Homo sapiens: one gene and its partners. The protein of the gene in region 1 purifies or fractionates together with the protein of each later gene. This does not show direct contact. Each region holds a gene or a part of one and is shown in the gene's direction. Other genes may lie near its edges.

Evidence for each region. Proteins that work in one complex are often made in the same cells at the same time.
Region 2: the proteins of NAT10 (region 1) and CCDC137 purify together in Homo sapiens (affinity purification with mass spectrometry; one large-scale study listed by BioGRID and IntAct). This does not show direct contact.
Region 3: the proteins of NAT10 (region 1) and NGDN purify together in Homo sapiens (co-immunoprecipitation; 2 studies listed by BioGRID and IntAct, with this or other methods). This does not show direct contact.
Region 4: the proteins of NAT10 (region 1) and C12orf43 purify together in Homo sapiens (co-immunoprecipitation; 2 studies listed by BioGRID and IntAct, with this or other methods). This does not show direct contact.

Annotation. Positions count from the first base shown.
Region 1 is NC_000011.10:34,129,629-34,133,128, forward strand, and holds part of NAT10 (RNA cytidine acetyltransferase), read left to right. Parts: intron 1-1,184; coding exon 1,185-1,309; intron 1,310-1,752; coding exon 1,753-1,903; intron 1,904-2,496; coding exon 2,497-2,593; intron 2,594-3,397; coding exon 3,398-3,500. UniProt on the Homo sapiens protein: RNA cytidine acetyltransferase that catalyzes the formation of N(4)-acetylcytidine (ac4C) modification on mRNAs, 18S rRNA and tRNAs.
Region 2 is NC_000017.11:81,669,737-81,672,067, forward strand, and holds part of CCDC137 (coiled-coil domain-containing protein 137), read left to right. Parts: intron 1-488; coding exon 489-717; intron 718-2,007; coding exon 2,008-2,090; intron 2,091-2,331.
Region 3 is NC_000014.9:23,472,703-23,475,687, forward strand, and holds part of NGDN (neuroguidin), read left to right. Parts: intron 1-2,468; coding exon 2,469-2,606; intron 2,607-2,855; coding exon 2,856-2,940; intron 2,941-2,985. UniProt on the Homo sapiens protein: Part of the small subunit (SSU) processome, first precursor of the small eukaryotic ribosomal subunit.
Region 4 is NC_000012.12:120,999,986-121,003,236, reverse strand, and holds the end of C12orf43 (protein CUSTOS), read left to right. Parts: 3' UTR 1-2,044; coding exon of another isoform or gene 2,045-2,172; 3' UTR 2,173-2,751; downstream 2,752-3,251. Other genes in the region: HNF1A (hepatocyte nuclear factor 1-alpha), read right to left, coding at 2,045-2,172. UniProt on the Homo sapiens protein: Plays a role in the regulation of Wnt signaling pathway during early development.

The DNA of each region.
Region 1 (3,500 bases):
ACAGACTCTGACTCTGTCGCCAAGGCTGGAGTGCAGTGGTGTAATCTTGGCTCACTGCAACCTTCACCTCCCAGGTTCAACCCATTTCTCCTGCCTCAGCCTCTTGAGTAGCTGGGATTACAGGTGTGTACCACCATGCCTGGCTAACTTTTGTATTTTTAGTGGAGACGGGGTTTCACCATGTTTGTCAGGCTGGTCTCAAACTCCTGACCTCAGGTGATCTACCCGCCTCGGCCTCCCAAAGTGCTGGGATTATAGGTATGAGCCACCATGCCCGGCCACTTTCTTTATAATAATGTCTTTTAACGACAAAAGTTTTGAAGTTTTGTTGCTTGTGCTTACTCTTTTTTCTTAAATAAATAAATAGGATACTTTTGGGAGAGCTTTGTTATGTGGTGTGGAGAGTGGGCATAAAACATCTAGCTTTTATCATTATTTGAGTAAGAGGAAGTATTTTACAGTCTTTGAATATAATAATGAGTACTATGAAATGATGTAATGAAAAGTGCTGTGTGTACCCTGTGGTGACATATGCCTGTGACTAAAGACAAGGAGAAGAAAACTCAACAATGAAAGCTGATTGAGTTATCAGATTATAGGTGATTTAATTTTTTTCTCAACATTTTTTAGCTATTTTATGTCACCTTATAAGTGGGCATAGCAATGAAAAGAATTACTGAGGTGGTGGATTTGTTTTATTTTCCAAACTGGAAATGTTCTCAGTTCATTTCCTTATGCACCGTACTTCTAAAAGCAGCTCCGTTAGTTGACCATTTAACTTTGTTCCAGCTTCACTAAAACTGCCTAAAGCCTTTATGCTAAAGGCTTTACTTACATCCTTTTTCCAGTCCTTATTTTTTAAGTTCACATCACAGTCCTGTGAGGTGTATAGAATAATCCCCTCTTGAAGATGAGGCGAAAAGAGATTCAGCTCCTTGCCCAAAGATACTAAGTAGATGAGCCAGGACGTGAGCCCAGGCCTGGGTGGCCCCAAGCTCAGCCACCGTGCCACCCTGCCTCCTTTGGACAGGTGCCTGCTATGCTGGAAGTTCAGAGATGAGCAAGGCTGTCCTGGGGGAAGCAGGGGTCTGGTGTTTCAGCAGGTGGAGGAAAGCAGCTCTCTGTCCCCTCCTAGACAGTGGATTTGGGACCTTGTGCCTGATTCCTTTTGCCTTTGTTTCTAGCTATGAGGGCACTGGCCGGTCACTGTCCCTCAAGCTAATTCAGCAGCTCCGTCAACAGAGCGCCCAGAGCCAGGTCAGCACCACTGCTGAGAATAAGACCACGACGACAGCCAGATTGGCATCAGGTACCCCAGAACCTGACCCGGGTCCCGCGGTTCACAGCAAGGCCCTTCAGTCTTACTGATCCTCGCTTCCCCTGTGACATCATGGGAAGCACCAAACCTTCCCACCATCAGGCTGAGAGGTTGAGTCCCCAAGAGGAGAAGTAGCTTTTTTCGGAGGAACAGCAGTCCAGTGACCAGATGGGAGCCAGACTAGGGCCTTCTGATGGTGGGGCCCTTGTGTGTCCTTGTCTCAGGGCATGGTTGCATTGAGATCCCTTTGGGGTTGGTATCGTGGCAAGTTGAATATCCACCAAAAACAATTTTAAACCACCCAGTTTAAATTCTTACCACACGTCTCTGGCCACCATGGGACAAATATAAAGTGAAACATTTTTCCTTGCTTTTTTAGACAATACATATTTAATCATTGTTTCTTCTTTTGTGTGTGTGATTGTGGGGAGCAGCGCGGACACTGTATGAGGTTTCCCTCCAGGAGTCAATCCGATACGCCCCTGGGGATGCAGTGGAGAAGTGGCTGAATGACTTGCTGTGCCTGGATTGCCTCAACATCACTCGGATAGTCTCAGGCTGCCCCTTGCCTGAAGCTTGTGAACTGTATCCTCCTCTGGGTTTCACTGGCCCTGTGAAAAGGAGAGGGGCGGTGAAAGAATTCAAAGGACTTGAGTCCTTTGTTTCATAGGATGCTGCTCTAGAGAAAGGGGAAAGTTGAACATTTTCAATTTCCTTTTTCTCTTCCTTTTTTTTTTTTCTTTCTTTTTTTTTTTTTTGAGATGGAGTCTCGCTCTGTCACCAGGCTAGAGTGCAGTGGCACAATCTCAGCTCACTGCAACCTCTGCCTCCCGGGTTCAAGTGATTCTCCTGCCTCAGCCTCTTGAGTAGCTGGGATTACAGGTGCCAGCCACCACGTCTGGCTAATTTTTGTATTTTTAGTAGAGACAGGGTTTCACCATGTTGGTCAGGCTGGTCTCAAACTCCTGACCTTGTGATCTGCCTGCCTCAGCCTCCCAAAGTGCTGGGATTACCGGTGTGAGCCAACGCGCCTGGCCCTCTTCTTCCTTCTTTTATGTGTTTCTGCTTAGGACACTGAGCTCCTGTTCCCAGCTACGGAAATTTGTTCTGCCTCCAGAGAGTAGTATGACCTGTCTTCGGCTATTTGTTTTGTTTTGGTTTCTTAACTCCAGACCCAGGTACTATGTTAATAGAGATACCCTCTTTTGCTACCACAAGGCCTCTGAAGTTTTCCTCCAACGGCTTATGGCCCTCTACGTGGCTTCTCACTACAAGGTAACTGCAGCTAGCCCTTGTGTGAATGGTAGCAGGGAGCTTCAGCATTTGGCAGTCCCCTTTTACTTGATTTGCATATTTTATTACCCAATGGCTTAGGTGACTGTTCCATTGGGACATTGATGAGTTCCACTGATCTTGCTGTGTGTAGGTATAGAGCATGTAGCTCCATGCAGTAACGGGACAGGGTGGAAAGCTGTGTCCATTTTTAAAGGAGTGCTTTCATTTCTTGCCTGCCTACTAAACTGATAGGATGAGGTGACATTGCAGTTGTGGCCCGGTGGTGCAGTTTGACCTGAGACCAGCTTTATAGCTCTGGGCTACTTTTATGGAACAGTGAATTTGAGGGTTTAGAATATCTGAGACTCTTAAAAACAAAAGGGTTGGTTAAAAAGGATACTTTTTGAATGTCTAGATAGTATTTTTATGAACAGCTTTTAATGGAAGGCTTGAAGAGTTGGTGTTAGAAGTGGTGACAGTTTTTCCTGAAATAGCAGCCTCTTATCTGTAAAAAGTTCACTTCCTAGCTGTGAAATAAGTAGTGCTAAATAAATTCTCTTCTTCTGTCCAGCCTCAGTGCTCGGGGTGAGAGGACAGTAGGCATTTGAGGCTAAGTTCCACTTAACCTGTTATGAAGAGTCTCAGGCTTGCCAAAATACTAGAAAGGTGCTTTGCTGGACTTCTGCTCCTCACTTGGCTTTGGAGAAGGCCATACTGCAGTCATCCTGTGGTTCTGAATCGAACCTTTTGCGTAAAGGGCAAGAGGAAGAGTGCTTCTCACTGACCCGTGTTTGGCTTCCACAGAACTCTCCCAATGATCTCCAGATGCTCTCCGATGCACCTGCTCACCATCTCTTCTGCCTTCTGCCTCCCGTGCCCCCCACCCAGAATGCCCTTCCAGAAGTGC
Region 2 (2,331 bases), on another chromosome or scaffold:
GTTTTTAGTAGAGACAGGGTTTCACCGTGTTAGCCAGGATGGTCTGAATCTCCTGACCTTGTGATCTGCCCATCTTGGCCTCCCAAAGTGCTGGGATTACAGGCATGAGCCACCGCGCCCGGCAGGTCTGCCCACGTTTCTCTGTGTAGCTCCACTGGGCTTCTTTCGGCAGCTGTGCAATGGAGTCTGTGGGTGATCAGAGGAGAATTCATTCAACCAGCCACCTAGGGGTGGACATTAGGTTGTTTCTGCTTTCCTTTTTCAGCTGTGCTGCAGTGGACATCTGTGACAGGTGCCATTGGGCTGGGGGGTCACGTCCCCGGGGATGCCGGGCCGGGCATTCTACATCCTCTTCAGCTGCTGTCGTTGGGGTGCTTCCAGCCAGCCTGGTCTTCCCTTCCTGTGGCTTTGGGAGGGGAAATGAGCATGGGTCACCTGCCTGCCACTGTCTGCCTCCTGCCTCCTCTGAGGCCTCCCTTTGTCCTCAGCCCAGGTGACCTTCAGAAAGACATTGGAGAAGGAAGCAAAGGGAGAGGAGCCCGACATCGCAGTCCCCAAGTTCAAACAGAGGAAGGGGGAGTCTGACGGGGCCTATATCCACCGCATGCAGCAAGAGGCCCAGCATGTGCTGTTCCTCAGCAAGAACCAGGCCATCCGGCAGCCAGAGGTGCAGGCAGCTCCCAAGGAGAAGTCTGAGCAGAAAAAAGCAAAAAAAGCGTGAGTGGAGGCGGGAGGGGGAGGGGTCTGCCCTGGGAGCCGGAGGGAAGACATTGGGTTCCCATGACGGCCCTCTGCAGGTACCCTGTTTCATAGCCATGGGGCAGCCTGGATTCAGGGAGACCAAGCCAGAGCCCTGGGAGTTGGCGAGTCGGAGCATCCAGCTGGGAGCCAGTGAGGGTGTGGCCTCCAGGAGGCTGCGGAACCTGGGAACTCTGCGGAGACCTCGCTTGGTCCTTGCTTTCACAGGAAAAGCACCAGAAAGCCCTAGCCCTGTGGGAATCAGCCCTGAGGGGGTCGGTCTGAGGGTGACGTGCCCAGGGGTTCTGTTTCCATTAGAACAGAATGTCTCTCGTCCAAGAGACTACACCTTCCTAATTCTCTAAAAGCTTTGGCCGAGTACAGTGGCTCACGCCTGTAATCCCAGCACTTTGGGAGGCTGAGGCAGGTGGATCACGAGGTCAGGAGATCGAGACCATCCTAGCCAACACGGTGAAACCTTGTCTCTAATAAAATACAAAAAAAAAAATTAGCCGGGCGTGGTGGTGCATGCCTGTAATTCCAGATACTTGGGAGCCTGAGGCAGTGGAATCGCTTGAATCCGGGAGGCAGAGGTTGCAGTGAGCTGAGATCGTGCCGCTGCACTCCAGCCTGGTGACAGAGCGAGACTCCATCTCAAAAAAAAGAAAAAAAAAAAAAAGCTTTGAAGGTTTGAGAGGTTGCTTTCAGCTCTGTAGATTCCCTGTTTCTGGATTGTTGTATTACTTATAGTTACCTTAGCCAGTGAAAGTTCATCACAGAGAACGTGGCCCAGATACAGCCTGGCGCCACGGTGATCTCCAGAGCTGTCGCTGAAGGTGAAGCTTCCAGATTCACATTGAGGGAGACGTGATATACAATGCTTGTTAGGCCCTTTAGACACAGCAGCACCGGATGGGCTGGATGAGTCTCTGTTGGGTGGTCTTTGGCAGCCTTCCCAGCCTTCGTGCACAAGGTGCCAGTAGCCCTTGCCCACGTGTCTGCACACATTGTCAGATGTTCCCTGGCAGGTAGCTGTCCCCAGCTGAGAACCACTGGGGGACCTGTGAGGGGCCTGTTGGGGTCAGAGCCTTCTTTGGTGGGCAGCTGTGGGTTTTGGGGTGGTAAGGGGAGCGGGGACTTGGAGGCAGCCACCTGTTCTTGGGTCCCTGCTCTGCCACAGGGGATCCCTTGTGGGTGGGGCGGCCTCTGCCTCCTCCCTGGGTGGAAAGAGAATTTAGGAATCTGAGTGACATGTGCTTTCTTCCCCAGGTTCCAGAAGCGGCGACTAGATAAAGTCCGACGGAAAAAGGAGGAAAAGGCGGCAGACAGGCTGGAGCAGGAGTTGCTCCGAGGTAGCTCTTCCCAAAGCGATGGTGTCAGCAGTGGTCCGGGTGGGGCCTGGGCGCAGGCCTTCTGTTCCCCACCAGCCCTGGCTGCACTGGGCACCTGTGGTTTCCCCTGGGGTCCACAGCCATTAGACCACTGGATGAGTTGGTGTTCTGTCCCAGCCCTATGGGAGGGAGGTGGGCGGGTGGTGGCTCTGGGTGTCAGGGGTGCAGTGGCTGTGGGCAGCAGTCCTCAGTTGTATTCTGC
Region 3 (2,985 bases), on another chromosome or scaffold:
AAATACAAGTATGAAAATCATTGTAATAAGAGTCACTGAAGGAGTTTTAAGCACAGGAGTTACAGCAGATTTGTGCTTACAGAAAGATAACTAAAAACAGCATTCAAAATATATTCCCTTCTTGTCTTTATCATTCACTTATGTTCTTATTGTCCATTTTTATTTAAAAAAAATTTAAATCTTTGTTTTTCTCTCATATGCTTGTAGCTCAGTTTGAATTTGACAATGCCCAAGCACGTCGGAAGAGCCTGCTTCTCAAATTCTTACCTGTTTTTGTCCTGGGTACCATGCTTTTTTGTTTTGTTTTGTTTCGTTGAGATGGAGTCTCCCTCTGTCGCCCCGGCTGGAGTGCAGTGGCACGATCCTGGCTCACTGCGGCCTCTGCCTCCTGGGTTCAAGTGATTCTCCTGCCTCAGCCTTCCGAGTAGCTGGGATTACAGGCGCCCGCCACCACTCCTGGCTAATTTTGTATTTTTAGTAAAGACGAGGTTTTACCATGTTAGCCAGGCTGGTCTCGAACTCCTGACCTCAGGTGATCCACCCACCTCGGCATCCCAAAGTGCTGGGATTACAGGTGTGAGCCACCACACCAGGCCTTGGGTACCATGCCTTGAACCATTTCAGTGCCTTTTGGAGATGGATGAGTTGCCAGCATCCTTCTTAGATCCCTATATATTTGTTTATTTATTGAACAAATACATATTAACTTATCTTTTTGACCAAAGACTTTTACTAGGTGCTTTATAGGTTACAAAGTTCTTTCACATTATCTTATTTGGGCCTCATAATTATTCTTTGTGGCAGGGAGGAAATGTACATATTTTACTGATAAGACTGAGGTTGGCCTGGTGCAGTGGGTCACGGCTGTAATCCCAGTGCTTTGGGAGGCTGAGGCAGGTGGATCACGAGGTCAGGAGTTCGAGACCAGCCTGGCCAACATGGCGAAACCCCGTCTCTTAAATCTTAAACAAAGATTTAAATTTTTTTTAAATAAAAATGGACAGTAAGAACATAAGTGAATGATAAAGACAAGAAGGGAATATATTTTGAATGCTGTTTTTAGTTATCTTTCTGTAAGCACAAATCTGCTATAACTCCTGTGCTTAAAACTCCTTCAGTGACTCTTATTAACAATGATTTTCATACTTGTATTTACCCATAGAATATTTGGCTTAAATACAAAAAATTAGCCGGGCGTGGTGGGAGGCACCTGTAGTCCCAGCTACTTGGGATGCTGAGGCAGAAGAATCACTTGAACCCAGGAGGTGGAGGTTGCAGTGAGCCGAGACAGTGCCACTGCACTCCAGCCTGGGCGACAGAGTGAGACTCCATCTCAAAAAAAAAAAAAAAAAAAAGACTGAGGTCACAAGGTTAAGTGACTTACTCAATATTTGACTACCAAACACCTAATTCAGAACTTAAACTCAGTTTGTGGACTCTAAATCCTTTGCTCTCCTTCTATACCACAGTAGTGTTGATCTCAAGAGCTTAGCATGTTGGCTTAAAGACATCCAGGGATGAGGTGTTGGAGTCAGATTGAGTTTGAATCTTAGCTCTACTTGTATTACTGTGTTATCTTGGCCAAGTATTTAACCTCTCTGAAATAGGTTTTCTCAGGGCTGTGAAGTTTGGAAGATACATAAAAGCCCAAAGAAAAAAATGAAAAATCAGTATAATCACCACTCTGAGATAACCACTGTGGTAATATTTTTGAGATTTTTAAAATTATAAGAATAATATATGCAACACTTTTTCACACTCTAAAGTACACCATTTCTTCCTTTTCCTCATCTCACCCTAGGGGTAGCAGTTACTTGTGTGTTGTCTTGTAGACATTTTTCTATGTGTATAAAATGTATTCATCATATCCCCCCCTACACACACACACTTTCACAATTGAAGTCATATTACACTTTCTACAACTTGTGGTGACATGGATTTAATTCGATGTCATTATATATAAATCATTGTTTTTACCTGTATCATATAATTCCATTGTATGGGGGGAAATTGGTAATTACTTTGATTAAATTAATTTAAAACTTGGCAGTCTGTGGAGACATTTTTGATTGTTAGAGCTTGGAGGGGCCATCCGTGGGAAGAGGCCAAGGATGCTGCTGGAAACCTACAATGCCCAGGACAGCCCTCAACAAAAAATGTTCTGGCTTCAAATGTCAATAGCTCTGAGATTGAGAAACCCTGTTATAGTCTTTTTTGGGGGGGTAGTTTATTGATTTTCCTCTTCTCATTGTCTTCTATTAATTTTCTGAGCGTTGTTTCTCTTGTATTAGCATAACTTTCTCATTGGCCTTCTTAGGCATAGCTACTTCTTGAGACTATTCCAGATACCTAATATGAACTGATTGGGAAAATCTTGAACTTGGAAAAACATCCCGTTTACCCTAGGCTTTCATCTGGTTCTTTGGCTAAAACCAAATCTGTTTTTCTTTCTGTTTTGTTCAACTCAGGGTCTCAGCTTCTTGGAAGTGAAAGACCAGCTGCTGCTCATGTACCTTATGGATTTGACCCACCTCATTCTGGACAAAGCCTCAGGAGGATCTCTTCAGGGACATGATGCAGTTTTGAGACTGGTGGAGATTCGCACGGTATGAAGCATTTGGCTTCTTGGAGTTTTAGGTTTCTAAATTTTGAGCTCCAAGGGTATCACACAGTAGCTCTCATTTAAGTGAGTCTTCTCATGTTTAAGGAAACCAAATGAGAAAAGGTATTTTTCTATTCATTTGCTCTACTTTGTACATATTTTAGGTGCCTTATGTGGCACCTTAATATAGGGACTCTGGTGTGTGCTTCATTTTGGGAAGGAAATATAATCCTGATTAACTACCATGTTGTAGGTTTTGGAAAAGCTTCGTCCCTTGGACCAAAAGCTGAAGTATCAAATTGACAAGCTGATCAAGACTGCAGTGACAGGCAGCCTTAGTAAGTGAGGAGACCATCATGAAGTTGTGGGGACCATCAGAAAGT
Region 4 (3,251 bases), on another chromosome or scaffold:
TGGCCAACATGGCGAGACCCCATCTCTACTAAAAATACAAAAATTAGCTGAGCATGTTGACACACGCCCGTAATCCCAGCTACTCAGGAGGCTGAGGTGGGAGAATCGCTTGAACCCAGGAGGTGCAGGTTGCAGTGAGCCGAGATTGCGCCACTGCACTCTAGCCTAAGCAATGGAGCAAGACCCTATCTCAAAAAAAAAAAAAGAAAAAGAAAAAGAAAAGAAGTAGAAGCTCATGGCCAGGGATGGTGGCTCACACCTGTAATCCCAGCACTTTGGGAGGCCGAGGCAGGTGGATCACTTGAGCCGAGTTCCAGACCAGCCTAGGCAACATGGTGAAACCTCGTCTCTATAAAAAAAAGAATACAAAAATTAGTTGGGCATGGTAGTGAGCGCCTGTGAGGCTGCTTGTGAGGCTGAGGTGGGAGGATCCCTTTAGTCCAGGAGTTCAAGGCTGCAGTGAGCTGTATAATGCCACTGCAGTCCAGCCTGGGTGACAGTGAGACCCTGTCTCCAAAACAAAATTTTTTTAAAAAGTAGAAGCTTGAGGTTAAGATGAAATCTGGCTTTGTCATTAGAGTCTCAGCAGAGCAAGAAAAGCAGAGATGTGGGGTGTGAGAGCGTGGGTGCTGGAGCCTGTCTCCTCTTCGCAGGCCTCTGGCCTGCCCCAGCCTCCCGCTACCTGCCCAAACCCCATCTGAATGATTTGTGGACAAGCAAGAAGTTTCCACCGCATTTCTCCTTGACTTTACTAAAAGTTAAATAAACGTGCCACTCGCCCCGGCTGGCTACAAGCTGCAGGGGGTGCCGGGTCACCCCAGGCCTTTTCCTGAATCCCAGGGTAGACGCGGTACACTGAAGGCCAGGTTCTCAGCAGCAGGCCCAGGGATGTGGGACCATGCTTGTCCTGGGTTCACAGGCTCCTTTGTCCCTCCTGGCAGTGCTCAGGACCTCAGACTCCTCAGGGTGGCTGCGAACTGCCCTCAGCCAGCCAGGCCCCCAGGCTTCTGAGTGTTAGTCCTGTCCACACAGGTAGCTCCTGTGCCCTGGGGTCACCTCTTTCTTCTCCTGGGCACCTCAGCTTGGCCAGTTCCCCGGCCCTGCTCAGCTGCTCGGGCCTTGCTGCCTTGTGAGCTCAGCTACTCCTGCCCCAAACAAGGGCAGGGTCTGCAGGGCGCTCGAGACAGAGGAGCTGCCCCACCAGGACCTGGACTTGGCACGGGTTGCGAGGCTCCCACAGGAGTAAGGACGACTTCCCAGCCCCGAAGTAGCCTTCCCAGTAGAGGCAGGAGGCCAGGCTGGCCTCAGAGGCATGATGCTCTTGGGAACAAATACAGGAAAGCTGGAGGTCATGGGGCCTGGGAGAGGGAATCGCTGGGGATGGGAAGCCAGGAGAGCCCTGCCTGCCTTCCCTGTTAGCTTCGGCCTCCCTGGGCTCAGGCGTTAGAGCCCCAGGCTCTGGCACAGAGTAGCCACCCAGGAAATGCCTGTGTGAGTAGGTGATGGGGTCAGTACAAATGGCATGTGGGTCACTAGCTGGAAGGAGTTGGGGCAGGAAGGAGTGGCCCGGTGGGTACATTGGTGACAGAACAAGGCCACGCTGATCCAGGGCCTCTCAGAGCTCAGCAGGTCACAGCTACACAGGCCTGTGTCCTGAGAAGTGTGGCTGCCAGAGTGGTGTAGCGGTCCCAGGGCTCTCCATAGGCCCAGGCTGGGGGTGCCCAAGTCATAGGCCGCCCCCTTCAGTTCCAAGTAAGAAGACTGTATCCCACGAAGCAGCGACAGTCCCTCCTACATCTGCCATGAACAGGCTTTGCTCCTAGCTCTCCACGACCCCCTCCTGTGCACCCCGAGCAGCCTCCACGGGTTGGGGCGCCTCAGAGCCCTCCCTTTCTGATGCATCAGAGCAGAGTGGGGAGCGAGGCACAGCTGTCCAGGAAGGGCCACGGTTGCTCGGCAGGCTCAGGTCCTCCAGGCAGGGCTGGCTGCTGCCCTCATCACCCCCCAAGCAGGCAGTACAGGCCCCAGGGCCCAGGTGCCGTGGTTACTGGGAGGAAGAGGCCATCTGGGTGGAGATGAAGGTCTCGATGACGCTGTGGTTGGATGGCAGCAGGTGGCTCTGGCCATTGCTGGAGTCTGAGCTCTGGTACAGCACCAGGCTGCTGGAGGACACTGCAGAGGCAAACAAGGCTGCTAGCCACCCACCAGGCACCCACACCCACCCCACCTGCCTGTCCCTAGGGGTACTCAGGATGGGGAGGCAGGGCCACACCTCCTGGATCACAGCAGATAACAGGAACCCCAAAGTCACACCTCTACCCTCGGTTCTTCAAAGGGAGCCTCCCAGCCAGGGTCCACGGCCGCCCATGGAGTGGCCTGAGTACATCTTAGTGTGAACACTGGAGAAGCCCCGGTGAGATGCCGAGGTAGGTAGTTGTACGTGTTGGCTTGGCTAGGCTGAGTCAAACACTAATCTAGGCGCTGCTGTGAATGCAGGTGCTTTGTAGATGTGGTTAATGCCACAATCAGTTGGCTTTGAGTGAAGGAGATTACCCTGAAAATATGGGTGGGCCTCCTACATCAGTGGAAGGCCGTAAGAGCAAAAACCGGTTTCCCAGAGAAGGAATTCTGCCTCAAGGCTGCAGAATTCACTCCCCAGAGCTGCCAGCAACAGATTTCAGGCCTGCCAGCCCCCCGCAGACACGGGCCAAGTCCTTCAAATAAATCTGTTGGTTCTGTGTTCCTGGAGAACCCTGACTGATGGCAATGGTTAAGAGAATGGGCTTTGAGGTGGGACCTGGGTTCGAGTCCTGGCCCTGCCATCTGGTAGCTGTGGGAGATGAGGCAAGTCCCTCCCCTCCTTGAGTGTCCACTTTCTCATCTGTAAAATGGGGGTGGTCATGGACACGCCTCATGGGGTGAATGCCAGGACACAGAATGGCCTCAGTGGCTGTCATGACAGCTGCCAGGGCCGGGTCCAGGAACCTTATAGAAAGGGGGCAGCTTGCAAAAAGGCAGGCTGCAAAGCCCACCCACCTGACTCCAAAGTGCCCACTCCTGACAATGGCATCATAGATTACAAACTCAGGTGACCGCCCCACCGCCAGGGGTCATTGGAGCCGATGTGAGTGGATGCAGTGAGGCCTGGTGCACTGTTATATGGGAATATGAATTTTTCCAATTTTCCAAAAGATGCCAGAAATCTGGATTTCTATGTGAAAATTCCTGATTTTGAAATGTTGGCAACAAAT